4 linked regions of the Homo sapiens genome follow. The protein of the gene in region 3 purifies or fractionates together with the protein of the main gene of each other region. This does not show direct contact. Each region holds a gene or a part of one and is shown on either strand. Other genes may lie near its edges. The genes, in order: EEF2K, ZC3H7A, HSPA12B and AKAP12.

The links.
Region 1: the proteins of HSPA12B (region 3) and EEF2K purify together in Homo sapiens (affinity purification with mass spectrometry; 3 studies listed by BioGRID and IntAct, with this or other methods). This does not show direct contact.
Region 2: the proteins of HSPA12B (region 3) and ZC3H7A purify together in Homo sapiens (co-immunoprecipitation; 2 studies listed by BioGRID and IntAct, with this or other methods). This does not show direct contact.
Region 4: the proteins of HSPA12B (region 3) and AKAP12 purify together in Homo sapiens (co-immunoprecipitation; 2 studies listed by BioGRID and IntAct, with this or other methods). This does not show direct contact.

Annotation. Positions count from the first base shown.
Region 1 is NC_000016.10:22,251,262-22,258,286, reverse strand, and holds part of EEF2K (eukaryotic elongation factor 2 kinase), read right to left. Parts: coding exon 6,965-7,025; intron 1,540-6,964; coding exon 1,390-1,539; intron 1,035-1,389; coding exon 902-1,034; intron 645-901; coding exon 517-644; intron 1-516. UniProt on the Homo sapiens protein: Threonine kinase that regulates protein synthesis by controlling the rate of peptide chain elongation.
Region 2 is NC_000016.10:11,773,243-11,780,267, forward strand, and holds part of ZC3H7A (zinc finger CCCH domain-containing protein 7A), read right to left. Parts: intron 6,122-7,025; coding exon 5,924-6,121; intron 3,668-5,923; coding exon 3,509-3,667; intron 3,291-3,508; coding exon 3,210-3,290; intron 3,117-3,209; coding exon 3,078-3,116; intron 2,712-3,077; exon of another isoform or gene 2,165-2,711; intron 1,772-2,164; coding exon 1,738-1,771; intron 1,278-1,737; coding exon 994-1,277; intron 1-993. UniProt on the Homo sapiens protein: May be a specific regulator of miRNA biogenesis. Binds to microRNAs MIR7-1, MIR16-2 and MIR29A hairpins recognizing the 3'-ATA(A/T)-5' motif in the apical loop.
Region 3 is NC_000020.11:3,735,660-3,742,684, reverse strand, and holds part of HSPA12B (heat shock 70 kDa protein 12B), read right to left. Parts: intron 6,418-7,025; exon of another isoform or gene 6,345-6,417; coding exon of another isoform or gene 6,342-6,344; intron 6,295-6,341; exon of another isoform or gene 6,253-6,294; intron 4,028-6,252; coding exon of another isoform or gene 4,011-4,027; coding exon 3,968-4,010; intron 1,871-3,967; coding exon 1,773-1,870; intron 402-1,772; coding exon 277-401; intron 1-276.
Region 4 is NC_000006.12:151,235,973-151,242,966, forward strand, and holds the start of AKAP12 (A-kinase anchor protein 12), read left to right. Parts: upstream 1-3,994; 5' UTR 3,995-4,087; intron 4,088-4,411; 5' UTR 4,412-4,590; coding exon 4,591-4,752; intron 4,753-6,994. UniProt on the Homo sapiens protein: Anchoring protein that mediates the subcellular compartmentation of protein kinase A (PKA) and protein kinase C (PKC).

The sequences.
Region 1 (7,025 bases), on a different chromosome or scaffold from region 3:
TCAGAGGACCTGCCAGTATCCCCTAAAGCACTGACCACATTCCACAGCCCAGAGCTGGAGAAAGCATTCCACTCTATGTCCAGCATCCCAAGCTGGTCTTTGCAACATTCTCTTGTCCCTGGTCCAAGTAGCAATGGGAGGATGGGAGGTATGTTGGTGAGGTGCCTGGAGAGCCAGGTCTAAGACTAGTTCAGTCATTTGTCAATACATCACACAAACACACACACACACCACATGCCTTCTCACTATCTCCACGTGCCTGTTCCCCTCACTCTGGTAAAAAATGGGCCCAACCTAAGCAGATACCAGCTGCTCGATTGGAAGGACGCTCAGGAGGGCTTTGTGCACTGAGCTGGAGGGGACGGGCTGGGGCATGGATGGGACAGATGCTTCCAGCCCTGGTATTCATCAGTTAAGCACTGCTTGACCTGGCTGTCACCACACAGGGGAGCAGGGCTTGCTTTGCAAGTAGCAGAAGGGCCTGCCAGGCCAAGCAGGGTCACACTGGGCACCCACCAGCAGCTTGGTGTTCTGATTCACTGCATCCCTCTCCCGGGGCGAGAGGTCAAAGGGAGCAAGGCCCATGCTCTCGCAAATCCGGTTGCAGGCATGAGAGTAGAAGAAGAGCGCCATCCCGCGGACACCTGTGGACAGAGCGGGGGTGTCTGGAGTGTTGCTTTGCTCTGTGACGGGGGACAGGCAGTGGTGGGCCTCATACATATGGCCAGGGCAGGTATAAAACGTGCCAAGCTGGGAGGCATCAGACATCCAGGCTCCCATCTCCATGATCTTGAAAAAGCGCGTACAGTGTCTCAGCCTGTTTCCTTGGCTGTACGAAGAACTCAGAGGTTTTAGCAGGGAGCGTGGTTTCTGCAGAAACAGGCTGGCTTTCCCCACGTACCTAGGTTGCCGTCTCCAAAGTCAGTGCCCGTCTCCGTGTGGATCTGTGGGTCAGTGTAGAGATCCCCAACTCCCTGGATGTCCACCACTATCAGCTGATGGCCGGAACGCTCAAAAGTGAAGTGGCTGAAGGCCTACAGGGGACAGGAAGGAAAACGAGATGTCAAGAGACAGGCTGAGGTCTGTGCAGGCACTGGCCACGCCTCTGCCCATGCTGAGGGGCTTTCTCTTCAAGGAGTTATATAGAGGAAAAGACAAAGGAAAAAGGCCTCTTCAGTTGGGCAGGGACCTTGGGCTGCAGGTCCTGTGGCCACCTTAGGTGACAGAAGCTGTCATGGGGTGACGGGTCTCCTTCTGAATGCTCCAAGAGGCTTCTCTGGGGGTGAGACTCCAAGCCCACAGGGACCTTCCTCTTTAGGGGCTGAGCCTGGCCAGGATCTCACCCCAAGGGCTGTGGTGGGCAGAGGGTGGAGGTGAGCTCGGCCTCACCTGCGGCGTCAGGCGGATGTTGTCATCGCGGACAAAGCCAGAGTTGGAGTTGTACTTGATGTACTTGCCCTCGATGTAGTGCTCCAGGTGGAAGAGGGGCTTGCCCGGTCTGTCCTTCAGCTCGATGATGCACATCTGCATGATGTCCACCTGGTGGGATGGGGAGTGGGCTCAGGCGGGAGGGCCCAGGCGCACCTCCTCTGAGAAGCGGCAAGGGGAGGGCTCAGAGGAACTCGCCTGCCTGGGCTCAGACCCTGGCTCCATGACTTACTAGCTCTCTATTGTAGGAGCTCCTGATGATGCCCAGAATCTAATCTCCTCTTTTCCTTTAATTTTTTTAAAATTAAAAAAAATATATTTTTAGGCTGGGCACGGTGGCTTACATCTGTAATCCCAGCACTTTGGGAGGCTGAGGCAGGTGAATCAGTTGAGGTTAGGAGTTCGAGACCAGCCTGGCCAACATGGTGAAATCCTGCCTCTACTAAAAATACAAAAATTAAGGCTGGGCATGGTGGCTCACACCTGTAATCCCAGCCCTTTGGGAGGCCAAGGTGTGTGGATCACCTGAGGCCAGGAGTTGGAGACCAACCGTGGCCAACATGGTGAAACCCTGTCTCTACCAAAAATACAAAATTAGCCAGGCATGGTGGCACATGCCTGTAATCCCAGCTACTCTGGAGGCTGAGGCAGGAGAATCACTTGAACCTGGGAGGCAGAGGTTGCAGTGAGCCAAGATTGCACCACTGCACTCCAGCCCTGAGCAACAAGAGCAAAACTCCGTCTCAAAAAAAAAATTAATAAAATAAAAATACAAAAATTAGCTGGGCGTGCTTGTGCGTACCAAAAATCCCAGCTACTCAGGGTGTCGAGGCAGGAGTATCACTTTAACCCAGGAGGCAGAGGTTGCAGTGAGCCAAGATCATGTCACTGCACTCCAGCCTGGATGACAGAGTGAGACTCCGTCTTAAAAAAAAAAAAATTTATTTTAGAGACAGGGTCTCACTCTGTCGCCCAGGCTGGAGTGCAGTGTCATAATCATGGCTCATTACAGCCTCATACTTCTGGGCTCAAGTGATCCTCCCACCTCAGCCTCCCGAGAAGCTAGGACTACAGGCGTGTGTCACTACACATGGCTCATATCTAAATTTTTTTATAGAGACGAGGTCTCACTATGTTGCCTAGGCTGGTCTTGAACTGGCCTCAAGAACTGGCCTCAAGCAATCCTCTTGTCTTCCAGCATCCTCCCAGAGCATTAGGATGACAAGCTGCAGCCACTGTGCTCAGCTCTGTTTTCCTTTGAGTTTTAAAAGGGTACACAGCCACCCACTAGGGATGACATTGCTAAGCTTCCCTTGCAGCTAAGTGTGGCCACATGACTGTGCCCAGCCAATGGGAAGTGAGCATTGCAATGATGTAACTCCAGCCTGCCCTGTAAGGTGGACTCTGCTTGGGAGCCAGAATTGATTATGTGGTCCATGGCAAACCCCTGAGGGGATGGCAGAGAAAAAAGACCAAAGGAACGAGTTCTCTAGATGGCTTCAAGGAGATGAGGCACAAACAAGCCTACCCCAAGCCACCCACCAATGCAAGACCTCCACACAAGTGAAAAAGAAACCATTTCGTGTCCACACATATTTTGTGGGTCTGTTTGCTAAGCAACTTAGACTATGCCTTACAGTAAAACTGTGAATTTGGGAACATTTCTGAATTTCACCTCTCTGTGCCTCAGTTTCTTTACCTGCATAAAGAGGGTCTCAGGCTCAGTCTGTGAATTAAACTTATTGATGCAAAAAGGAGCCAGGCAATGTTTGCTTTCATTTTATTTTATATTTTATTGCCCAGGCTGTTGCCCAGGCTGGACTGCAGTGGCACGATCTTGGCTCACTGCAACCTCTGCCTCCCAGGTTCAAGCAATTCCTCTGCCTCAGCCTCTTGAGTAGCTGGGACTACAGGCACCCGCCTCCATGCCTGCCTAATTTTTGTATTTTTAGTAGAGATGGGTTTTACCATGTTGGCCAGGCTGGTCTTGAACTCCTGACCTCAAGTGATCCGCCCCCCCACCCCGGGCTTTCCAAAGTGCTGAGATTACAAGCATGAGCCACTGTGCCTGGCAACTCATTTTTATCAGGAGCTACAATTCTAGAGAAATATAAACCAACCTCTAAACAGCAGTTTTCTCCCTGCAATGGGAAATTATAGGGAACTTTGACATTCCTTGCCGAATTTTTTTTGTTTTTATAAAGTCTATGTTTAATTTTGTACACAGAAGAAAATGTATAAATAGTGCATATGGTTTGTAAAGTGGAGTAGGGGAGATTAGGGACTCTAGCTTGCACCTCTTGCCCTGTTACACAAGGACTCATCCTTGGTTCCCATGTCCTCCTCAATGCCACCTCCTGGGAGGATTAGGTCCAGGTTTCCCAAGGAAACGACCATCCATGGAGAGTGGGTCACCAGACATGCAGACAACAGATGCAGAGGCCGAAGGGGTCCTGATCTGAGAGGTGAGAACTTGCCCCAAACAAGGCTTCAATGGGTTCTGAGAACCGGCCTGAGGGGAAGGCAGGGAGCGGCGGTTCTCAGAGGGTTCTGCCCAAAGGCTGGTCCCATCCCTACAAGGAAACTTACAGCAGGGCCACCTGCTGGGCCAGAGGGCTCCCTGGGCGAGGGGCAGTGGTACAGCCACAGTGGACAACCAGCACCTTCTCAAACAACCACGTCTCTCTCCCTCCCTTAAGTCAACCACATTATTATTATTATTATTATTATTGTTACTACTACTACTACTACTACTATTTGGGGATGGAGTCTTGCTCTGTCACCCAGGCCGGAGTGCAGTAGCCCAATCTCGGCTCACTGCAGCCTCCGCCTCTCGTGTTCAAGTGATTCTCCTGCCTCAGCCTCCCAAGTAGCTGGGATTACAGGCGTGCACCACCATGCCCAGCTAATTTTGTATTTTTAGTAGAGGCGGGGGTTTCACCATGTTGGCCAGGCTGGTCTCGAACTCCTGACCTCAGGTGATCCGCCCACTTCAGCCTCCCAAAGTGCTGGGATTACAGGCATGAGCCACTGTGCCAGGCCTACCACAGTATTATTTACTGGACACCTAGGCACTAGGAGACAGCAGTGAACATGATAAAATAAAATCTCTGCCTTTAGGGGAGAGAAGCACCTAAAATATTAACTAAATGAATGACATACTAACTGCTCCAAAGAACAGGAAAAAAAAAAAAAGTTAGAATGATGTGACAGAGGTGACTGGGGCAGAGGGACCACTTCTTAGGGTTGTCTGAGATGGGCTGGCTGAGGAGGTGACACAGGATCTGAGACCTGAACTATAAGAAGTAGCTAGCCATGCAAGAATTACGGTGACACAAGATGCCCGCCAAGCCCACAGCCAGGGCCAAGGTTTTGGGGCAGGAACAAGCTTGTGGAGGAAGAGAAAGGAGGCCAGGCTGGAAGGCCGCAAATTGCAGAGGAAGCCACAGCCCCCCAGGGTGGGGACTGTGGCTTCTTGCGCCTGCCTCAAGTATGCTTCATCAAGGGCTCTGCAAACAGCAGGTGCTCAATAAATTCTGCACACCCAGGAGACTGTGCGTTGTATGTAGTAGATGCTCAAGCTGTGGAAGATCTCAGCTGTGGGCTCATGCAGGGCAGAGGCATGGATCCTTCCTCAAATGCCGAAAGGCAACAGGGAATTCTGCTTGGCCTCAGTCACTCATCACCCTAGGGGCTCAAATGAAGGTGCCAACCTAGCAGGGGGTTGAAAAGCCTGCATTTGAGACCTGGCTACAGCTCTGCCTGGTTGGGGAAGTCATTTAGCCTCTTTGAGCCCAGGGTTTCCCAAAGAGCAGACATAGTATCCACTATGATATGGTTTGGCTGTGTCCCCACTCAAAGCTCATCTTGAATTGTAGCTCCCATAATTCCCACGTGTTGTGGGAGGGACCTGGTAGGAGATAATTGAATCATGGGGGTGGTTTCCCCCATACTGTTCTCATGATAGTGAATAAGTCTCACGAGATCTGATGGTTTTATAAGGGGAAACCCCCTTTGCTTGGTCCTCAATCTCTCTTGTCTGCCACCAGGTAAGATGTGCCTTTTGCCTTCTGCCATGATTGTGAGGCCTCCCCAGCCACATGGAACTATCTGTCCATTAAACCTCTTTTTCTTTTATAAATTACCCAGTCTTGGGTATGTCTTTATCAGAAGTGTGAAAACGGACTAATATACATTCCCAGCTCTTTCTTCCGCTTTTTCTTGGGAATCTCACCTTTTCCAGTCTCAGTCCCTGTGGTCTGGGTGGAACACCTACATTCCTAGCTCTAAGGGCAGGCACATGGCTAGGGTGTGCCCAATCTGCATATTCCTGCCCCTTGGCCACTGTGATTGGCTCGGCAATAGGGATCTGACTTAATCAGAGCCAATGAAACGCAGCTCTGGGACTTTTATTGGAACTTCTGGGGAAATAGGTTTTGTCATTCCAACAAGAACTTGGGCCTGCTGGGGGCCAGAGTGCTACCACTAGTGCAGAGGCTGCCTGAGAATGACGCCAACCCAGAAGAACACCCAGGCCAGAGATGGAGGAAGATTCTGACAACCTCAGTTTAATCCTGCATCCAGCCGTGCCTGTGGCAGCATTATTTTTCAGTTACATAAGGCAATGAATTCCCTTTTCGGATTAAGCAGTTTGAGTGGGTTTCTGTCATTTGCAAACAAAAATCCTGACTAATAGATCCCATCTGTAATTGAGGATAAAAACATTCCGACCTCAGAGCTCTGTTTTTAGGAATAAATGACTCTGGAACAAGTGCAATGGCTCACGCCTGTAATCCCAGCCCTTTGGGAGGCCGAGGTGGATGGATTGCTTGAGGCCAGGAGTTTGAAACCAGCCTGGGCAACATGGCAAAACCCTTTCTCTACAGAAAATACAAAAATTAGCTAGGCATGGTGGCATACCCCTGTAGTCCCAGCTACTCAGGAGGCCAAGCTGGGAGGATTGTTCAAGCCCAGGAGGTTGAGGCTGCAGTGAGCTGTAATTATGCCACTGCACTCTGGCCTGGGCAACCAAGAAAGATCCTGTCTCAAAAAAAATAAAAATAAAATAAATGACTTGGTTCATCATGCTCAGTAAACAGTGGTTGTTATTAGCTACTATTAAGAAGGTGAAAGAGGCCAGGTATGGTGGCTCACACCTGTAATCCCAGCACTTTGGGAGGCCAAGGCAGGCAGATCACTTGAGGTCAGGAGTTCGAGACCAGCCTGGCCAACATGGTGAAACCACATCTCTACTAAAAATACAAAAATTAGCCAGATGTGGTGGCAGGCACCTGTATGTAATCCCAGCTACTGGGGTGGCTGAGGCAGGAGAATCGCTTGAACCTGGGAGATGGAGGTTGCAGTGAGCCAAGATCATGCCACTGCACTCCAGCCTTGGTGGTGGGTGACAGAGCAAGACTTCATCTCAAAAAAAAAAAAAAAGAAGGTGAAATAGGGATTCACCATGGCCCTCTTTCCCAGACACTGTGCCCAGCTGCCCTGGCATGGAAAGGGGGCAGGTAGTGGGGCCACGCACCTGCTTGGGGGGCTTGTGCCGATTATACTCCTCCCCCCAGAGCTTGGCCTCCATCTGTAGA
Region 2 (7,025 bases), on a different chromosome or scaffold from region 3:
AATCAGTGCTCACTGCAGCCTCAACCTCCTGGGCGCAAGTGATCCTCTACCCTCAGCCTTCCAAGCAGTGGGACCACAGGCACGCACCACTATGCCAGGCTGTTTTTAATTTTTTGTAGAGATGTGCCCTTGCTATGGTTACCCAGGCTAGTTTCATATAATCTCCATATGTCACAAAATATTATTCTCTTTTTTGTTCTTCTCTCAACCATTTAAGAATTGTAAAAAATATTCTTAGTTTGCAAGCCATACAAAAACAGGTAATAGGCCAGATTTAGCCTGTGGGCTACAGTTGGCTGAACCCCGCTTTAAAGTATGTGGTTGCTAGAGGATTATCTTTAAGAATAAGAAGTCCTGAGGCCGGGCATGGTAGCTCACGCTTGTAATCCCAGCACTTTGGGAGGCCGAGGCGGGTGGATCACGAGGTCAGGAGATCAAGACCATTCTGGCTAAGGCAGTGAAACCCCATCTTTACTAAAAATACAAAAAAATTAGCCAGGCGTGGTGGCGGGCGCCTGTAGTCCCAGCTACTCAGGAAGCTGAGGCAGGAGAATGGTGTGAACCCGGGAGGCGGAGCTTACAGTGAGCCAAGACTGCGCCACTGCACTCCAGCCTGGGCAACAGAGCAAGACTCCGTCTCAAAAAAAAATAAATAAATAAAAAGAATAAGAAGTCTTTAATCTATATAATTCATTTTTTCTTAAATATCAAACGCCTATTTTTTATCAGAATGTTATCTTTGCCCTTTCCATAATATGAGATCCCAATATGAATTGGAAAAAAATTGGCTAATTACTAGATAGCATTCTTTTTTTATTTCAAAATGATCAAATTAACCAGTTTCAGTAGAGAAGAAAAAAAGTAACTTTCAAGGTTAAAAAAACCCCCAAATTCAGCCTATATGCAATACTGAAAAAGTCTATCAAGTTATATTACAATTTTTAAAAAGTTAACTCTGTCTTCAGAAGAAACTTGAGTAACACTGAAACTTACCATAACAGTTTCATTAGTTTCAGGTGCAGAATCAAGCAGGTCATCTAGTTCATCTCCAAGGACCATATCTCCATCATCTAGAAAAGCTTCTGGCATAGTGAAGGGCATCTTTCCTCCATTTGCCAGCACTGCAGATGGCAGAGCGCTCTCTTCCACTTGTAGTGGCAAAATAGAAGTTAAGGGCATAACAGGAACTGAGGCCAGCTCACTTCCAACTTCATGAGAAAAACTGGGTGCCGGTAAAGAGACAACAGGAACTGCTTCTTGCCTTGGAGTTAATAAATCTGTAACACAGATGGAAATGTACTCAGTCACTTTCATCGTACTTACATAATAATACCATTAATCCCCAATAATAGAGATACAAAGATGAAAATATGAAGGCAATTATAAAAATAATAAAATTGACAGTATAGTAAAGCAATTCCAAACAGATACAGTCACGTGTGAAAACTTATCCTTCTTTCACAAAATGCCTGTATCTCTCTTTGGGCACAGCTATCAGACAGTGGCAAGGCCACAGTGGGTGTCAGTGATTGCTTACTAACATCCAACACTTTTCAGTCACTCACTGGCACATCCAAAGGCACAAAGGGAGCATTGGAAATCATTTTCACTTTCATATTAATACATTAATATGAATATAACCACACAGCGATATTATTTGACAATACATCACATACAAAGACATCAGGTACAAAGCTGGCACTATTCAAATTGTTAAGATGATATGTGAAAACATACCTGGCTCAATATCTTCCACAGAATGGTTCAAAGCCTAGAAATTAAACCAAACAATGGGTTATAATATTTTCAGGACTCTAAGCCATAAAACAATCAGTAAAACTCACCCTAGGCCGGGCACAGTGGCTCACGCCTGTAATCCCAGCACCTGGGGAGGCCGAGACAGGCAGATCACGAGGTCAGGAGTTTGAGACCAGCCTGGCCAACATGGTGAAACCCTGTCTCTACTAAAAATACAAAAATTAGCCAGGCATGGTGGCAGGCATCTGTAATCCCAGCTACTCAGGAGGCTGAGGCAAGAGAACTGCTTGAACCCGGGAGGTGGAGGCTGCAGTGAGCTGAGATAGCGCCACTGCACTCCAGCCTAGGTGACAGAGCGAGACTCTGTCTTGGAAAAAAAAAAAAAAGAAAAAAAGAAAAAACTCACCCTAAGAGAACAATGCAGGTTTCCACAGAAATTCAACTCCCAATTAAGATCCAAGAAATGAATGGAACACGCAAACCTGTATACATGTGGTGTTAGGTGAGGTGCTGGTCTAGCAGTGCTGCCACTTATTTCTCGTGGACCAGCATTTCTCAAAGGCTATTCAGCAGAATAACAGGGATGAATTTGGCCACCAATCATTGCCCAACTCACAATAGCCATTAGCATCCTATTAGCCCCAAGAAAATTTTAATTTTAAAATTAAAAACAAAAACAAAAAAAAACCCTTTGTTAATTTTATCACAAATGACTCCCAAAACTAGTATTTGGCCCTGAACCACTCTTATTGCACTGAAACCTAACATCTATTAACATCCTATAAAATGCCCCACTGGAGCATTCAGGAAATGCTGGTTACAGCTAAAATATATTACTTGAGTTGTAGATGTTCTTTTGTAAAGTGACTAGAAGAGGCCAGAAGAGATGGCTCACGCCTGTGATCCCAGCATTTGGTGGGAGGCCAAGGCAGGAGGAACACTTGAGCTCAGGAGTTTGAGGCCAGCCTGGGCAACATGGTGAAACCCCATCGCTACAAAAAATACAAAAATTTAACAGGCCATGGTGGTGTGTGCCTGTGGTCCCAGCTACTCGGGAGGCTGAGGTGGGAGGATCACTTGAGCCCAGGAGGTGGAGGTTGCAGTGAGCCAAGATCAGGACACTGCACTCCAGCCTGGGCAACAGAACAAGACTCTGTCTCAAAAAAATAAATAAAGTGACAGGAGGGTATTGCCAATTACGTGTTTGAGGAATTAAAAAGGTTCCAAAAATAAACACACACCAAAAATACTAAAAGTAGAATTGCTCCCATCCTTCCCTTTAAAAAAAAATATAATTTTGACAGAAAAAATAACTTTACCTTGGTAGCCCCATCCCCAGGAACTGATTTTAATGAGAGCTGAAATAAAATAAAGACACTAATTTAAAAACAGAACTGACTCCAAGTTCTAAAACAAAATGAAAACACCTTATGCAGAGAACTCCAGCTTACCTCAGCTCTGACATACGCTTTTCTTATTTTAAATCCCAATTTCTGAGCTAGTTCTTGAGTTAGTTTTATTACATGCTCATCCTGAAAAAAATAAGTATGTATAATTAACAGGGTTATATTTACTAATGGTGAAGAAGAATAGACAAAACAGGGAAGTTTCCCATCAAGACACCTGCTTCATTAGCATTTATACCCAACTGAAGCAGGTTGATGGATGACTGGAAAATTTAACTCTTTAAATGCCATTTATTATGATGTAAATGGTTACGATGTAAACAAATAAACTATAAATTCCATACCTGAGGCACTGCTAAGGAGCACTTTGCTACAGCATCGTAAGCCTTTTTGTATCTTCCTAAATCACTTAAAGCCTTAGATTTCCGATACAGAGCTTTGCAGTTACTGGCATTTAAACTGAGGACTATATTGCAGTCCTCCAAAACTTTATCATGGAAACCCTGGTGTGTAAGACCAAAGAATAAAGTCAGCAATCAAACAATTCATTTCTTGCACTGAGGCCTTCCTGTAATAAAAACAAATTAATACCCCATCCTATTACCCTCCCTCTAAACTCCAAGTTAGCAGTATTACTTTTATTTTTTAAATTATTTTATGAAATTTCAAATACAAAAAAGTAGAAAGAATATCATGAATACCCATGTACACACCATCCAGGTCAGACAAATGCTAATATTTGGTCAGAAAGTCCCCAGATCTTCAAGAAATAAAGCTTTCCAGACCTAACTGATGTCCCCATGTGTCCCTCTCCTATTCGCTCCTCTGTAGTTACCCTTTGCTGGAGCACATTAAGATGTCAAACAGAAACGTAACTCCAAACAGCTAACTGATAAGGAATATATTACCCAAAACAAAATAAATAAACAATGAATGCTCTTTAACAAAGAGCTAGGTGACAACACGGATATTTTTCTTAAATTCATGGTTATATTTTACCGAGTATCCACAGTGAAAATTAAAAGCACTTCAGGTTGGGCACAGTGCCTCACAGCTGTAGTCCCAGCACTTTGGGAGGCCGAGGTGGGTGGATCACCTGAGGTCAGGAGTTCGAGACCAGCCTGGCCAACATGGTAAAAACCCCATCTCTACTAAAAATACAAAAATTAGCCAGGCGTGGTGGCGGGTGCCTATAATCCCAGCACTCGGGAGGCTGAAGCAGGAAAATCACTTGAACCCAGGAGACAGAGGATACAGTAAGCCGAGATTGTGCCACTGCATTACAGCCTGGGCAACAGAGTGACACTCCATCTCAAAAATTTAAAAAAGGTGGCCAGGCGTGGTGGCTCATGCCTGTAATCCCAGCACTTTGGGAGGCTGAGGCGGGCAGATCACCTGAGGTCAGGAGTTCGAGACCAGCCTGACCGACATGGAGACACCCCGTCTCTACTAAAAATACAAAATTAGCCAGGTGTGGTGGTACATGCCTGTAATCTCAGCTACTCGGGAAGCTGAGGCAGGAGAATCTCTTGAACCCGGGAGACGGAGGTTACGGTGAGCCAAGATTGTGCCATTGCACTCCAGCCTGGGCAACAAGAGTGAAACTCTTGTCTCAAAAAAAAAAAAAAAAGTTTTAAAAGGAAAAAAAGAAAAAAAAGCACTTCAAAAGCTTTTAAGCTTAAAAATGTGAAAATCTAGTGTGAATTCCTTTGAAGACTAATTACTATTTCTTGATTTAAAAAAACACTCGCCAGGCACGGTGGCTCACGCCTGTAATCCTAGCACTTTGGGAGGCTGAGGCGGGCAGATTGCCTGAATTCAGGAGATCGAGAACAGCCTGGGCAACACAGTGAAACCCCATCTCTAACAAAATACAAAAAATTTGCTGGGCACGGCGGCATGCGCCTGTAGTCCCAGCTACTCGGGAGGCCGAGGCAGGAAAATTGCTTGAACCCAGGAGGCGGAGGTTGCAGTGAGCCGAGATCGTGCCACTGCACTCCAGCCTGGGTGACAGAGCGAGACACTGTCTCAAAAAAAAAAAAAAAAAAAAAAACACTCGTAAGAGTGTTTTTTACCAAGAGTGTTTTACAAGATCAACTGGATCTTGACTAAGATGTTAACTGTGAACAGGGATACCTGAAAGACACACTGACCTGTGAAGACCTGTATCTTCCCTGGATGACTTTTTTATAAGCAGACACACCTTCAAAAGCCATACTCAAATGGGAATCATCAAGGACCAATAACTAAGAAACAAATTATTTCTTAAATCCCTAACCTTCTGTCCAAAGCTAATTTTTATTTTTTTATTTTATTTTATTTTTTGAGACGGAGTCTTGCTCTGTCGCCCAGGCTGGAGTGCAGTGGCACAATCTCGGCTCACTGCAAGCTTCGCCTCCTGGGTTCAAGCGATTCTCCTGCCTCAGCCTCCCGGGCAGCTGGGACTACATGCACACGCCACCATGCCCAGTTAATTTTTTTATTTTTAGTAGAGACGGGGTTTCACCATATTGGCCAGGCTGGTCTCAAACTCCTAACCTCATGATCCACCCACCTTGGCCTCCCAAAGTGCTGGGATTACAGGCGTGAGCCACCGTGCCCGGCCAATCCAAAGCTAATTTTTAAAAGCCTCAAGCCACTCCAAAAGCAGGTAATATGACTTTCTTAAAAACTTAAGAAATTGACTTTTTATTAATGTACTAAGTCATTGAAAAAATTCTTTTCACTCTAGAAACATCATTTTAAAAATTACAACTCACCATATTAGAATAGCAGGCAATACGATTTATATATAGTTTTTCAATTATTTCTTTGGGGATTAAAATTTCTTCAGATTTTGCATAATCAGCTATATTCAAGGCTTCCGTGTACTGGCTTATCGAGTTGTTCCAATCATGTTCCCGATAAACGTCATTTCCTTCATTAAAAAGATTTCTCACGAGAGCACGCAAATATACCTAAAAAAAAGAAAGTTACCACTTGAAGCCTTTTATCAAACAAGATATGGTATAAGTAAATTTTAATTTTTATACCTAAAACTTCACAGGAAACAATGTGACAGAACAGCAGCATTGCTCTAAGAAATTGTGAGATGCAGCCCAAGTCACTGCTATCTCAGCTAGGGATTGAATCTTGCTTGCTTTTTCAAGGGGAAATTCAATTTCTCACTATTAAGAAAAATGCAGCAAAGTACCTTATAAATATTTGTTCACATCTCCAATTCTGTGCCCGCTAGAGAAACCAAGTGGAAGCCCCAAGTCAAAGAGAATGAATAGTTTAAGGCTTTTGAGCAGTATTTCCAAATTGCCTTCCAAAAAGGCCATGATGAAAAATGTTTCTAGTGGTTTACTTTATAGCACCCATACACACTAGGTAGTGTGTGTGTGTGTACACGTGTGTGGGTACCCGTGCACATATATGTAAAATCTACCAATTTCTAGGTGGAAAATGGTATCGTTTTGTGTTTATTTATTTTTTTTAATGGTATCCTCTTTGTATGTGCATGTCTTTACCAGTGAAGTTGAACTATTCCACATTTTTACGGACCCCTTGTATTTCTTTTTCTGTAAATTGCTCAGGTCATTTACTGATTTGGGGGGAGGGGGATGTTAAACTTTTTTCTTATCAAGTAAGTATACACATTCTTTTAGCATGTATAAAAGTTTGTCATTTTCCTTCATTATTTCTATCACGCTTTAGTTTAGTTCTTTTTTTTCTTTTCTTTTTTTTTTTTGAGACAGAGTCTTACTCTGGCACCCAGGCTGGAGTGCAGTGGCACGATCTCGGCTCTCTGCGACTTCACCTCCTGAGTTCAAGTGATTCTCGTGTCTTAGCCTCCCGAGTAGCTGGGATTACAGGCAC
Region 3 (7,025 bases):
TGCATATTTTATTGTTATGTTTGTTATATCTCAAAAAAATTCAAAATTAAAAACAAAGTCTGACTTTTCCTACAGAGGGTTGGGAGCTGCTCCAGTTGAGGCCAAGGACCCAGGCCTGGGGCCCATCCTCCAACTTTTACCCCAGTGGGGAGCCCCAGACTGGGGGTGGCAGGGCCTCCAAGGAGACCCCATGTCTCGGTGACAGTACTTTTGGGACCAAGGTATGAGGAACTCCCCACCTTCCCCACCTCACTCTCTCAGCCCAGCCGACCTCACCTCATCATGTGGATGGCCTCAGGGTCACTGGCAAAGCTGAAAGCATAGCCACTAGACGTGGTGCCGAAGTCAATGGCCACCACCACAGAGAAGGAGGCCTGCTGGGGGGCTCGGACCTCGGGTTTCTGCAAGTGCAAGACTTAGAATTAGCAAGCAGCCAGCAGGGACACCCCCATCCCCCACAGCCCCAATGCTTCCTCTGCATGGGGAAGACACTCCCCTCCACTGACTGTGGTCCAGACCAGCCCTGGACCTGGCCCACCCCACCTGCCCACCTGCTCGGGCTCCCTTGCCCTCCCAGGCTCCAGGCTGAGCCTTGGACGTGTCTCTCAGGTAGCCCCAGGCAGGGTTTGGCTCAAGCTCCTGCTTTCCTGCTTCCAGCCTCTGCCCACCCTCCCTCTGGACTGCCTTAGCCCCACCCCCACCTCACACCATCTTCATAGGCAGCCATTAGTCTGGGCCCAGCTGGGAGCAATTTTGCTCCTCCAGGCAGTTTTACAGCACATGGACCAGTGTATATATTTTATCCTCTTGCTCTTTGTGGCCATAGTGACACAAACCAGACTGTCTGATTCTGTGGCAGAGAGGAGAGGGCACGTGCATGTCCCCAGAGAAGTGTGTGCCTTCTCCTATGCCAGGGCTGGACTCCCCTAAGAATAAGGGGGTCCCTAAGCTGGATCACCAGGGCAAGGTCATCCAGGTGGGGTGACCCAGGGAGCTTGGGGGTGGGGAGGTGGTGTCCTGGATACTTCAAGCTAGTAGTTTCCTTTTTATTTGAGACAGGGTCTCACTCTGTCACCTAGGCTGAAATGCAGTGGTGCGATCTTGGCTAACTGCAACCTCCGCTTCCCAGGTTCAAGCAATTCTCCACCCTCAGCCTCCCGAGTAGCTGGGATTACAGGTGTGCACCACCACGCCCAGCTAATTGTTGTATTTTTTGTAGAGATGGGGTTTCGCTGTGTTGCTCAGGCTGTTCTTGAACTCCTGAGCTCAAAGCAATCTGCCCACCTCGGCCTCCCAAAGTGCTGGGATTACAGGTATGAGCCACCATGCCCAGCCCAAGCTAATGGTTTCCAGACTATTTTTTTTTTTTTTTGGCAACACATCTCCTCTCCTTCAGATATGACTTGGATTAAGGTGGGCTGTGGTCCACAAGAGGCCCAGTGCTCTGGGGACCTAGAAAAGCCACATGCTCAGGGGAACACTTGCCTCAGCCAGGCCAGCTTCAATGGCCGTGGGTGCCTCCTGTGTGGGGGGGTTGGGAGTTAGTTACATGGGGCTCGCCTTCTCAGTAGAATTGTTACCCTTTATAGTCCAGGGTCACCCAAGGCCAATCCTTCTGGGGGGCACATGACTGGAGTGTACGGGGACAAGAGGCATGGTGCTACCCCCATCCCCTCCTCCTTCCTAGCTGAGGCCCTGTCATGACTTTGCCACGCACGACCCTGTCCACACCAGCCAGGTCACCCACCACCTGGTCCCTGCTCTGGGCTTACTGGAGACTGCGAGGGTGTGAGGGGGGCAATGCCGCAGCTTTCCTGGGTCCTCGGGGAGCCGGGTGGGCTAGGCACTGGGGACCGCTCCGGGCTGGAGCCTGCAGAGAAGAGACGGCAGTTCATCCTGGCACAAGCAGGGTAGGTATGGCAGCGGGGCCCCAAGCCAGGCACCCAAAGGTTCTCCATCAGTCCTTGCTGGGCTAAGGCAAAGGGCTCTCTGCTGGGGAGGAGGACTGCGGGGTGTAGGAAAGACACACATGACGCAGGGGCAGGAGCTGAGGGTCTGCTGTCAGAGGCAACGTTTCCCTAGCAGATGACCCATGCTTTCCCCAGGAGCTCACTGTCTCCCCACTAGGGCCCCTCAGACACACAGTGTGGGAGGGGAGAGAGACAGAAAAGCATTGTGTGGCAGGGAGACTCAGTCCAGAGATGGAAGGGCAGGGGAGATAGGGCAGGTGAGCTCCTGGGAGGGAGTAGAGGAGAGAGAAGCCCTCCTCCTTCAAAAGGTGGAGCTACAGAGCTAACTGGCTAGGAGGTGGGGTTGCTCCCCTCCACCCTAAAGTTGGGCCACGTGGTTCTAATCAGGACTTGAGGGAACTCTGCAGCTCCCATGCCCACAAGGGCCACAGACAGGCCCAGCTGGCTGCTTGAGGAGGATCGAGGAGGGGGAGCACCTCCTCCCACACCCATAGAGATAGCCCAGTCCTGAACTGGGGGTGTCCACAACATTAGGAAGTCTGATTCCCACCCCCCACACACACACATACACACACCCTGAGCCAGCATTTCAGGGCAGGACGCCCCATCAAGACCCTCTTGCACGCCTGGGACTGAGCTGGACCTTTGGTGGGAGGGAGTGGAGTAGCCCTGGAGGACAGCCCCAGGCCTCGCCCCGAGGATCAGGCGGCTTATGGGGCAGGAGGGCCTGCCTGGCTGGTAGCTGCCACCACCACACTGGGCATTGCTAAGGGGCATGTGAGGAGTACTGGGGCAGCCTTGATATCCATGGACAGGCCAGGGAGGCTGGCTAGGGAGGGAGAGTGAGATCTGGTAGGAAGCTCCATGGACAAATCAGGCAGGTCTGGCTCGCCTTAGGCTGAGCCAGGCAGGCCCTGTGCTCCCTCAGCCACAGTCCTGTCACGTGCTGCCAGGCAGGTCTCCACTCTCCCTGGCCTTGGGGGTAACCTGGGAACACAGGCGAAGGGCCAGGCATGAGGGGGACTCTGGGAAGCGCCTGGACAGGGCCAGAGTCTGAGGTGCTGGAGGGGCAGGGAAAAAGTGGCCACATTTCAAGGGCTCCCTCTCCTCAGGCAGCCAGGGCAGGCTCCAGCCCTGCCACCAGCTGCAGCCCGAGAGGCCAAGTTGCTGTGGCTCGAGCTTGGGAAGGGAGGCAGGAAGGAAGGGCCCAGCCCACCAGGTCTTTGTGAATGGACTTCCTGAGGAGTGTCCCTCTTGCCTCCGGCCTCCCACCCCTGCGGAGAACCCAAGCCTGCTCCCAGACCAGGCTATGGCCAGACGCACATGCACACGCAGAACTCTCTGCATGCGTGCCCACCTGCAGACTATACTCCCGTACACAGATCCTGTGCACAGAGACCTGCCCGCAGAGACACACACTCACTGATGCACTCACACGGGGTCCTGTGCACATGGCCTGAACAAAACACATGGACATTCAAACACTCCTGTGCACACAGACCCTCCATGCACACGCAGAACTCTCTGTATGCATGCCCACCTGCAGACTATACTCCCGTACACAGATCCCGTGCACAGAGACCTGCCCGCAGAGACACACACTCACTGACACACTCACACAGGGTCCTGTGGACAGAGCCTGAACAAAACACACGCACATGCATACACTCCTGTGTGCACAGACCCTTCTGGCACACACAAACACACGCACTCAGCCCACACTCATATACACATGAGGGTCCTGTGAATAGACCAGTCCTGTGTGCACACATACTCACATACACAGACCGGTGCACACAGACCCTTTCTGCACACACAGGGGGGTCCAGTAAACACAGACCTGCCCTGCACACATGCACACACACACACACACTCACTCACAGAAGAGCTGTTGGGAAGCTCTGTGGGAGAGGTACATTGCACAACCTGTAGGTGGGTCTCAGTGCCTGCTCGGGTGAGTGGGTGATGGGTCAGGGCAGAATGGTGGGGGTTCTTACCGATGTACAGCCCCTGCAGGCCCATCTCCGGGACAGCCAACATCCTTGCAGGCCCTGTAGCTGTCAACAGGAACAGACAAGCAGAGTGGGATTTATTTGTCCCTTTGTTCCCTCATCTGAATGCTTATTTATTTTATTTGTTTACTTTTGGCTGGAGTCCTTTGAAGCAAATCCCAGCCATCATGTTGTTTCACCCGTGAACTCTTTAATACATCTCTCCAACAGATAAAGACGTTTTAAACAATGTCATCGCAACACCATTCTCATGTCTAATGAAATTAACAGTAATTCCTTAAATCTCATCTAAAGTCCCACAGTTCCCAGCTTGTGTCAAAAAATGGCTTTACTTTCTTGGAATCAGGATCCTCCTAAATGTTTTCTGGTGCCTGCTCTGTGCCAGGTGCTGGGAGATAGTGACCCAGAGAGACACTGTCCCTGCCCTAGAAACCAACGGTCTGATGGAGGAGATAATCAGGCAAGTGATTTTGAAATGACAAGCGTTGCTGAGTGCTAGGAAGGTCAAAGTTGGATAATGCGGGGTGGGAAGAGGACATGGTAAGTCTGGACAGAGGGCTGGGCTGGGCTTACCCTGCAGGCAGGGCCTGTGCACCCTATTTCAGATTTGATTTTATATGAAGGGCAACAGCAAATCTTGAAAGGTTTGAGGTGGCAGGGTGGGGTGGGGGCATGACTCAATTTGTCTTTTCTTTTTTCTGAGACAGGGTCTCACTCTGTTGCCCAGGCTGGAATGCAGTGGCACGATCTTGGCTCACTGCAACCTCTGCCTCCCAGGTTCAAGCCATTCTCCTACCTCAGCCTCCTCAGTAGCTGGGATTACAGGTGAGTGCCTCCATGCCCAGCTAATTTTTGTATTTTTAGTAGAGACGGGGTTTCGCCGTGTTGGCCAGGCTGTTCTCGAACTCCTGACCTCAGGTGATCCGCCCACCTCGGCCTCTCAAAGTGCTGGGATTACAGGCATGAGCCACCGTGCCTGGCCTTCGTTGTTTGTTTGTTTTGAGATAGGGTGTCACTCTGTCACGAGGAGAACCTACATTTAAAGGCTGAACAGAGGAATATATACCGGCCCAGGAGACTGAGATGCCTCATGGTCTCATGAAGATTGTACCAAGAGATGGGTAAAGCTAGATCCCTGTAAAAGGTCCCCAGATGAGACTGGAAACACTGTTTTAGTGGCCCAAGGGAGGTAAGCTTAGGTGAGGAGTGAGCAAGAGGTGACATGAGCTAGAACTTCTTTTCTTAAGATGGAGTTTCACTCTGTTGCCCAGGCTGGAGTGTAGTGACGCAATCATATTGAGCTAGAATTTCTGAAAAGCTTGGCTGAAATCAGGAATACATGTGAGGGCAGTAGTTGGAGGGCGCTAAAGCTGAAGGGAGGTGAGGAAGAATATTTATTTTCTAAGATGGGAGGGGCTCGATCCTGTCTATGAAGTTCTGGGGCCAGGCTATAGGCAGGATATTTCAAACCATCAACAGCTTTGTTACTCAAAGTGTGGGCTGAGGATCAGCAGCATTGGTATCACCTGGAAGCTTGTTAGAAATGCAGAACCTCAGGCCCCAGCCCAGACCTGCTGAATCAGAACATGTATTTCATATTTATTTATTTATTTATTTATTTATTTATTTATTTATTTATTTATTTTTGAGGCAGAGTCTCACTCTGTCCCCCAGGCTGGAGTGCAGTGGCGTGATCTCAGTTCTCAGCTCACTGCAATCTCCATCTCCTGGGTTCAAGTGATTATCCTGCCTCAGCCTCCCAAGTAGCTGGGGCCACAGGCATGCGCCACCTAATTTGCCTAAAATGCCACCTAAAAATGCCTGGCTAATTTTTGTATTTTTAGTAGAGTCGGGGTTTCACCATATTGGCCAGGCTGGTCTCGAACTCCTGGCCTCAGGTGATCCGCCCGTCTCAGCCTCCCAAAGTGCTGGGATTACAGGCGTAAGCCACCGCGTCTGGCCTATTTTAACAAGATTCCCAGGTGATTCAGGTGCACATTGAAGTTTGAGAAGTGTTGCTCAACAGTGTCTCTCAGCCAGTCTGCAGACCACTGACACTATGTTCTCATTGGTGGGCCTGGCTGCTCCTCTAAACAAAGGAGGAGGCTACGCAGGGCCAATGCATTCCTTCTCTGTCACCAGCGGCCCAATCTGAAAGTTTTGCTATAGAACACAGGCAGACACAGAGCTGGCTCTGGCATGCCCATAGACACATGCACACACCCTTGCTCACACAGTTCACACAAACCAGCCCCATTGTGGACAGACACCTGGACTCCCACACACTCTTGTATGTCCAGGATTCTCCTGCATGGCCAGCACCATGGAGATTTCCAGACACTCTTGCTGTCCTCTGTACCATTGGAGTTGGATGCTCAGGAATCAGAATCAGAAGAAGGATGGGTGCTGGTTGTGGGCATGCATATAGCAGCTGGCTGTTGAGGAGAAAAGGGAAAGCACAGAGAGGGGGAGGGGAGGGTTCTTAGGAGCCAGGGGCAGGAGCCCAGAGCCCAGCTCAGGATGATGGAGTGGGATGCTGAGCTGGGTCCCACCAGCTCATGCGAGCTGATTCTTTCTATCTCTTCCCAATTCTGCATTCAATGACATCACATTGGTAGCTTCAAATCAGTCATGGCTGGGAGTATTTACAAGACAGAAATTGGCAAACACCATAAATCAGGATTTTATCCTTCTTCCAGAGCTGATTGGAAACCATTAACCAGCATACTACTGGATCAAGGTCTCGAGGGAGGAGCTGGCAGCCTTATTTGTATGTTGTTCTGATTCTTCAGCAAACACTTATCGAGATTCTTCATGCCAGGCTCTGTGCTAAGCACTGGGGAACCACTTTGTTGAATGAATGAATGGATTTTCTGGACCGAGGCTATTGTATCTGGAGGAGAAACAACCTAGAACCACCAGAAAAAAAAGACTCTGGGCCGGGCGCCGTGGCTCACTCCTGTAATCCCAGCACTTTCAGAGGCTGAGGCAGGTGGATCACCTGAGGTCAGGAATTCGAGACCAGCCTGGCCAACATGGTGAA
Region 4 (6,994 bases), on a different chromosome or scaffold from region 3:
ATATACGTGATGTATGTCTACAAGCGGCTGAGCTTTAAACTTCATCTGTAAATTGAACATTTTCTGTAGCTTCCATATGAATTTTAGATTATTAAGTACTCATGAATTGAATACAACTGTTAATTCTTCTAGTTTATAATTAGCAAATTATAATTAATGCTCTAAAATAATCCGTCTCAAATCCTCACATAGAAAGTAAAATTCAAATAATTTACTCACAGTTTCTTCCATAGACTTCTCAACAGGGTAATAACATTATTCTTGGTTATTTATTTTCCAGGCCATGTAAATGTTAATATTCTTATTTGTAAAAAGTAAAATCATATCTTAAGAGATGCATGCGCACATTCTAGTACTCTCTATTCTGCCTGAAACAGCTCTGTGATAAGGGAGTATTAAGAATAACAAATTCACACGAGCACAAGATAGAGTGGGAATTAGGTTCTTAGATGACTGGATATCTCTGTGGGAACAACTGGTTTAGAAAGAAGTAGGTGTTTTATCCAGGGAAAACAAAGAAGTTATAATCAAGAGAGAAGCAGTTTCAAAGGTGAAGGTGAAGAGTTGCCAGTCTCAGCGAAGGCTTTGTAACTAGAGAATGAATCTTTAGGGTAGAGTTAACGGTAGATTTTAAACTGTTTTAATAATTAAAATTATTATTGCACTTTGAAGGGGGTGTCTGAACTCAGTTGTAAAATGTTTGACATTTGTGAATTCCTTTAATGTTATATTTGAAACTGTTTTGGTGCATGCACAAGGTGCCCAACTATGACTCTACATTTTATTGTTAAACCTCATGTGACCCGTCTTTCTGGAGAAGTATGTGTGCGAAGTACAGGTTCAGCCTGCTACACAGGCAACATGTATTTGTTTTTGAGAAATCTCAAACTGTGTTTATGAGAGAATTAACCCTCTCAGGGAAACAGCTCTACCAACGACTGCCCCATGGGAGAGGATGTGTGGGGACACCTGCATCCTGCTATTTGGAGAAAAATTGAGCTGCTGGTGAGACATTGAACCAACAGCCTTGGACTGAGAAGTGAAAAATAGAGAACACCTGCCTCCCCTCTACTCTGATGCCAATCCAAGCAATTCCGAAGGCATCTTGGAAGCCCTAGAAAAGAAAACCTCAGTGACTCGATTTAGAACCTTGGAAACTAGAGTGGTAACTTTGTGCTTGGCACATAATAGGTACTTGATAGAAATTTATTGAAAGAAAGAAAGAGAAGAAGGAAAGAAAGAAAAAGAAAGAAAGAACAGAGAAGAAGGAAAGAAAGAAAAAGAAAGAAAGAAAGAAAAGTAAAAAAAGTAACAAACTTTGTAGCATTCTGAAGCACTAAGTGGCATACCCAAAAGGTTGGGCTATTTCATCGCTAGAGGTCATTAATAACACAACCACTTTTCTTTTCTTCTCTTTTTTTTTTTTGAGACAGGGTCTCACTATGTCATCCAGGCTGCAGTCTGGAACTCCTGGGCTCAAGTGATCCTCCCGCCTCAGCCTCCCAAGTAGCTAGGACTACAGGCATGCACCACCACTCCTGGCTAAATTTTTTTTTATTTTTTGTAGAGATGGGAGTTTCACTGTGTTGCCCAGGCTGGTCTTGAACCCCTGGTGTCAAGCAATCCTTCCACTTCAACCTCCCAAAGTGCTGGGATTACAGGCGTGAGCCACCGCGCCCAGCGCAATGATTTTACTTTTTACAAATAAGAGTATGAACATTTACATGGCCTGGAAAATAAACAAAAAGCAAGTAACTGCTAATCTAAGCAGATGCTGATATCTTCCTCAGCACGTAGGTTGTACACTGTTGGCTTGACCCTGCAATCCTTTCTGAAAATTTAAAGGGTAGTAGATGTGAAAAGCTTTGCTAAGAATTTCCCAGGAACAAAGTAAATATAATCTCACAGAATGTGAAAATGTTGATAGTATTTGTGCTACTTACTGATACATTTTCAAATGTGCTGACGTTAATCATTCTCAAATAGTTTTTTTTTTCTTCTTCTTTTTTTTTTTTTGGGACGGAGTCTTAATCTGTCATCCAGGCTGGCGTGCAATGGCATGATCTCAGCTCACTGCAACCTCCACCTCCCAGGTTCAAGCAGTTCTCGTGTCTTGGCCTCCTGAGTAGCTGGGATTACAGACACGCGCCACCATGCCTGGCTAATTTTTGTACTTTTAGTAGAGACGGGGTTTCACCATGTTGCCCAGGCTGGTCTTGAACTACTGTCCTCAGGTGATCCACCCACCTCGGCCTCCCAAAGTGCTGGGATTACAGGTGTAAGCCACCACACCTGGCCTCAAGTAGGTTTTAACAGTGCTTTTTGCTCTTAAAATCCTAAGTGAGGTCCAAATGCCACGTTTCAGTAACACCTCTGAGAGGAGAGAACACAGTTGATTGAAAGGGAAGGGGAGTGCCATGCGGTGGTGAAGCGTGGACCCTGAAAGCAGATGCCAGTTGGACTTCCTGCTCTTCCAACTCCTGGCTGTGAAACCTGAAGCACACAATTTAATTTCTCCGGGCCTACTCCTCCCCCTCCTGCCAATGGTAAAATGAGAATAATACTATCTATCCCATGGGGTTATTGTAAAGATTATTATGTAAAGTGCATTGAACAGTGCCTGGTACAGAGTAAGAATTCTAATGTTTCCTAAATAGTCAAAATTTAAGTCAAAATGGGGGAAATGTGTATAAATTCCTAAAACTAAGCATTTTGCAAATATACTGTTTCTTAAGAGATAAACTCCAGAGAAATTGGCCTTCGTGTAGTCCTTTAAATAAAAATAATTAATTCAGAAAACAGGCCCAGTGTGGTGGTTCACACCTATAATCCCAGCACTTTGAGAGGCCAAGGCAGGAGGATCGCTTGAGCTCAGGAGTTCAACACTAGCCTGGGCAACACAGCGAGACCTTGTCTCAAAAAAAGAAAAAGAAAAAAAATTAATTCAGAAAACAAATTTGATGGTGAGTAACTAACCTATGGTTCCCAGGGTACCATTCGATTCATGCAATTCATTAGGCATGAAACATCCTAGTGCTGAACTACTGCTTACACCCTTTCTACAAAATTGTACTAAATCTGAGTATGAGATATTTATCTGGAATTTGGTGTGAATATTCCGAAAGTTTCTTCCTTCTTTCTTTCTTTTTTTTTTTTGACAGAATCTTGCTCTGTCGACTAGGATGGAGTGCAGAGGCACAGTCATAGCTCACTGCAGCCTCGAATTCCTGGGCTGAAGTCATCCTTCTACCCCAGCGTCCCCAGCCTCCTGAGTAGCTAGGACTACAGGTGCACCACTGCGCCTGGCTAATTTTTTTATTTTTTGTAGAGACAAGGTCTCGCTATGTTAACCAGGCTGGTTTCTTCATTCTTAATGGAGATTCAAAGTATTTGTGAAAACTGGGGCACTCGGTTGCTAGTTACAACTGGAATAAATTTTGTCTTTCAGCCCCAAAGCCTTAATGCTTTGCGCCAAGCAATCCAGCTACAAATTTAATTTAGTTCAAATACTTATTGATTGGCTGCCATGCTCATGTAATACATATTATATTCAAGGGTCGGAAATGAAAGGATGCAAGCCACTTGTGCTGGTATTATTTAAAGTCTTCATCTTTTGAGAAAGGCTGACGGCAAAGGAACAGATCTATGCTGTCATGTGTCGGCATCGCGCGGAGCAGAGGTGGCCTGGATGGGTAACTTCCAGCACAGGCCCTCAAAGAAGGACGGGCACATTTCCGGTAACAGCCTCATTTCCCCCCGTTCCCCGGGGGAAGGGGGGCGGCTAGCACTGCTGATGGCATCGCCTGACATCACTTGTTCCGGAGGATAGGAGAGCGTGGGCCTGCGTGGCCCACCTCATCCGTGGCCTGACTGCGTTAACCTCTCGGTTCCCTGCTCTTGCCACGTGAGGTGCCCAAATATGGTCGGACTCAGGAGGAGCCAGGGAGCGCTTGCCTTTCTCCTGCTAATGGGGAGGAGGCTGGAACAAATGTTTGGAGTTAAACACAATCTGCAGGAAAGCAAATGGGGACTCGGACTCGCTCCTGGGCGAGCTGAAAGTCGGCTGCAGCAGAAGCTCCTGCCTTGGGTGATCCATCATTTAATAAACCCCAGAGAATCCAGTGTCCCCGGCAGGCTTTTTGCTCCCCTGCTCTCTTGCCTTCTGAGGCCCTGGGTCGTCCCCGCAGCTCTAGTCGCCCTGTTAGAAACGGGAGGCGCCCGAGGGCCGGGTGGGCGGCTGCCTGGACCTGGGCTGGCGCGTCGCAGCGCCTCTGGTCCCGGCAGCCTGGGGGCAGATGCTGCTGCAGGGCGTGTCTGGGGCTGTGCTCATGTGATGAAGCGAGGGAAAAACCGGGGGGAGGGGGGCGGAGGCTAAGAGGTGGCCTTTTTTTTTTTTTCCTTTTCTTTTAAGGAGTTTGCCGCGAGCGCGTCTCCTTCATTCGCAGGCTGGGCGCGTTCGCAGTCGGCTGGCGGCGAAGGAAGGCGCTCTCGGGACCTCGCGGGCGCGCGTCTTTTGGCTCTTGCCCCTGTCCCTGCGGCTTGGGGAAGGCGTAACCCGGCGGCTAGGCGCGGGAGAAGTGCGGAGGAGCCATGGGCGCCGGGAGCTCCACCGAGCAGCGCAGCCCGGAGCAGCCGCCCGAGGGGAGCTCCACGCCGGCTGAGCCCGAGCCCAGCGGCGGCGGCCCCTCGGCCGAGGCGGCGCCAGACACCACCGCGGACCCCGCCATCGCTGCCTCGGACCCCGCCACCAAGGTACGGGCGTGCCGGGCCACCTGCGCCGGGAGGCGCGGGTCTTTGGGGGTGGGGGTGGGGGTGGGGGGGTCCCTCCGATTTCCGCCGAGAGAACTTCCCAGCCCATCCAGCCGCATCTGCAAACTCAGGAGTGCGAACCCCTCTTTGGAGGCTTTTCAGGGTCTTTCGCGCCGGGGCGGGGCCAGAGCAGCGGCGAGCGCGGCGGGGGGCTTGCATCTTTGTCGCGGGTCTCCAGGGGAGGCGACTGCGCCATGCGCAATAATAAAACCCGCGCCCTGCCCACGGCGGCTGAGCCTTTCTGCGCACTCTTCCGGTGGGAGCCATGCAGCCCGAGGCGGAGGAGCTGCGCGGAGGGGGATCCGTGGAGAATGGACCCCGGGCCGGGCCTCCGGAGCTCCGAGATGCGGAAAGTCAGCTGTGAGGCCAGGACTCGTGGTGGAGCCCGCCGGGGAGCCCAGCCACCCTCGGGTTCCCCGTCGCGTACCGCCCTGGATGCCAGCGGTGCCTGGAGCGAGCGGGTTTGGTACCCAGTCCTCCTGCGGCAGCGGCCCGAGCAGGCACCGCCTTCCCGAGGCAGAGAAAGCCTGGGGTGTAGCTCGCTCAGAGCCAGGAAAAACCTGGGCAGGCGCTGCGTTTCCAGAAGGAATGACAGGTTTCGCAAACCAGCCAGCGCCCTCGCGTTCGCTCAGCGCTTTGCCTGCAGACTCAGTTGGCCAAACACACGCTAGAGTGGCTAGAAGTTCTCAAAGGATGGGGTCAGTGTAACGAGCATTCCGGGTACTCTTCCCTGGACGCAGTGCTGAAACGACTGCATTTTATCGGCTTCAGTCTTCAAGGCTGGAATATTTCTTGTGGGCCAGGACAGCCGCCAAGACTGTGGCTTGTTCTGGTCGTGGTATTTTAGATCTATTTTCCAGCGCATGTGTTCATTAGCAAGGCTTCACTCTACTGATTTTGTGATACCCTTGTATCACAAAGGTACCCTTGTGATACCTTGTAGAAAGATGTGGATAACCATGTTTAATAGTTAAATTTGCGGTATGTCAAATTTGAGGATAGAGTACGTGAGTTATCGCAGGAGGTGTAGATGTTTACAATATGCAAAAAAAAAAAAAAAAAGGAACCTACAACCATGACCTAATTGCCTTGACCTCCTTAGCTGCCCTAGTCTCTTTTGGGCTGAGAGACTGCTGTTAATAATATAGTTTTTACCGCCAGTCTTTGATTCATAACTACTTGTAAAATCCATGGTCCCTAGATATTAAGTACTAACTGTGTCTCTGTGCTATGTAGGTTTTTCTAAGAGATGCTTAAGCTTCTGGCCTGAGGAATGTACTGTCCTTTTGAGATTCAAGTCGCATTTTAATACTTACTGTATGCACATAATGTTTTGATGCCAGCTACTGTCAAAGTGGCTCTGTAACCAGTGGTCAGAGTCTAGCGATGAAAATAATTTTAAGGTATAATTGCTAAAAACTTGCAGTTGGGTGACATTCCCCCCACCGCCCCGGCTTTTATACTCCTTCAGATCTTACTAACTGTTCACCCTGAAATATGGGATTTAATCCCTTCCCAGTAAACTTGAATTTGTTTATTTAAAAATATTCCTTCCATTCTCTTTTTCCGTCTTCCATAACCTTATCCTTTTCCTCTTTCCAAGTTGCCAACCGTCTTGAAGCAACCAAACAACCTCCTTTTAAAAAATCACTTAAATGACATCCAGAATATCATTGAACTTGTTGGCATAATGCCCAGTTATCAATTTGGAGACAAATCAGTGCACTTACATGTATCCTTGGAATGTATTTAGTTTTCATTTGAACTAGCCAAATTTATCACTCAGGCTTTGAACACAAATGTCTTTTCAAAAGGACTCCCCAATTAAGAATGACTCAGCACCATGGCCCTTGCCTCCCCTCTTCTTGTTAAGCTCCAATTCCTGACCTCCAAGTAATCCCATCTCCCACTCTAGGCTCCGTGGCACCATGGACCCGTCCCAGCAGTTTTCACATGTGTGGGTTTAGTGTTCTTGCTGTTGTGAATACTTCGCAGGGGCAGGGAACACGCCTGGTTGTGCCGACCAACGGTGTTCCTTCATGCGTGCCATGTTGCCTGGCACAGAGGCAGCTCTCAGGAATACTTGTGGAAAGAGGAAGGGGTGATATTGGCTCCTTGGTTTTGATTGGAAAATATCAAGTTGGAGAATACCTTGACCTATCTGATTTTACTACAATTTAACCCT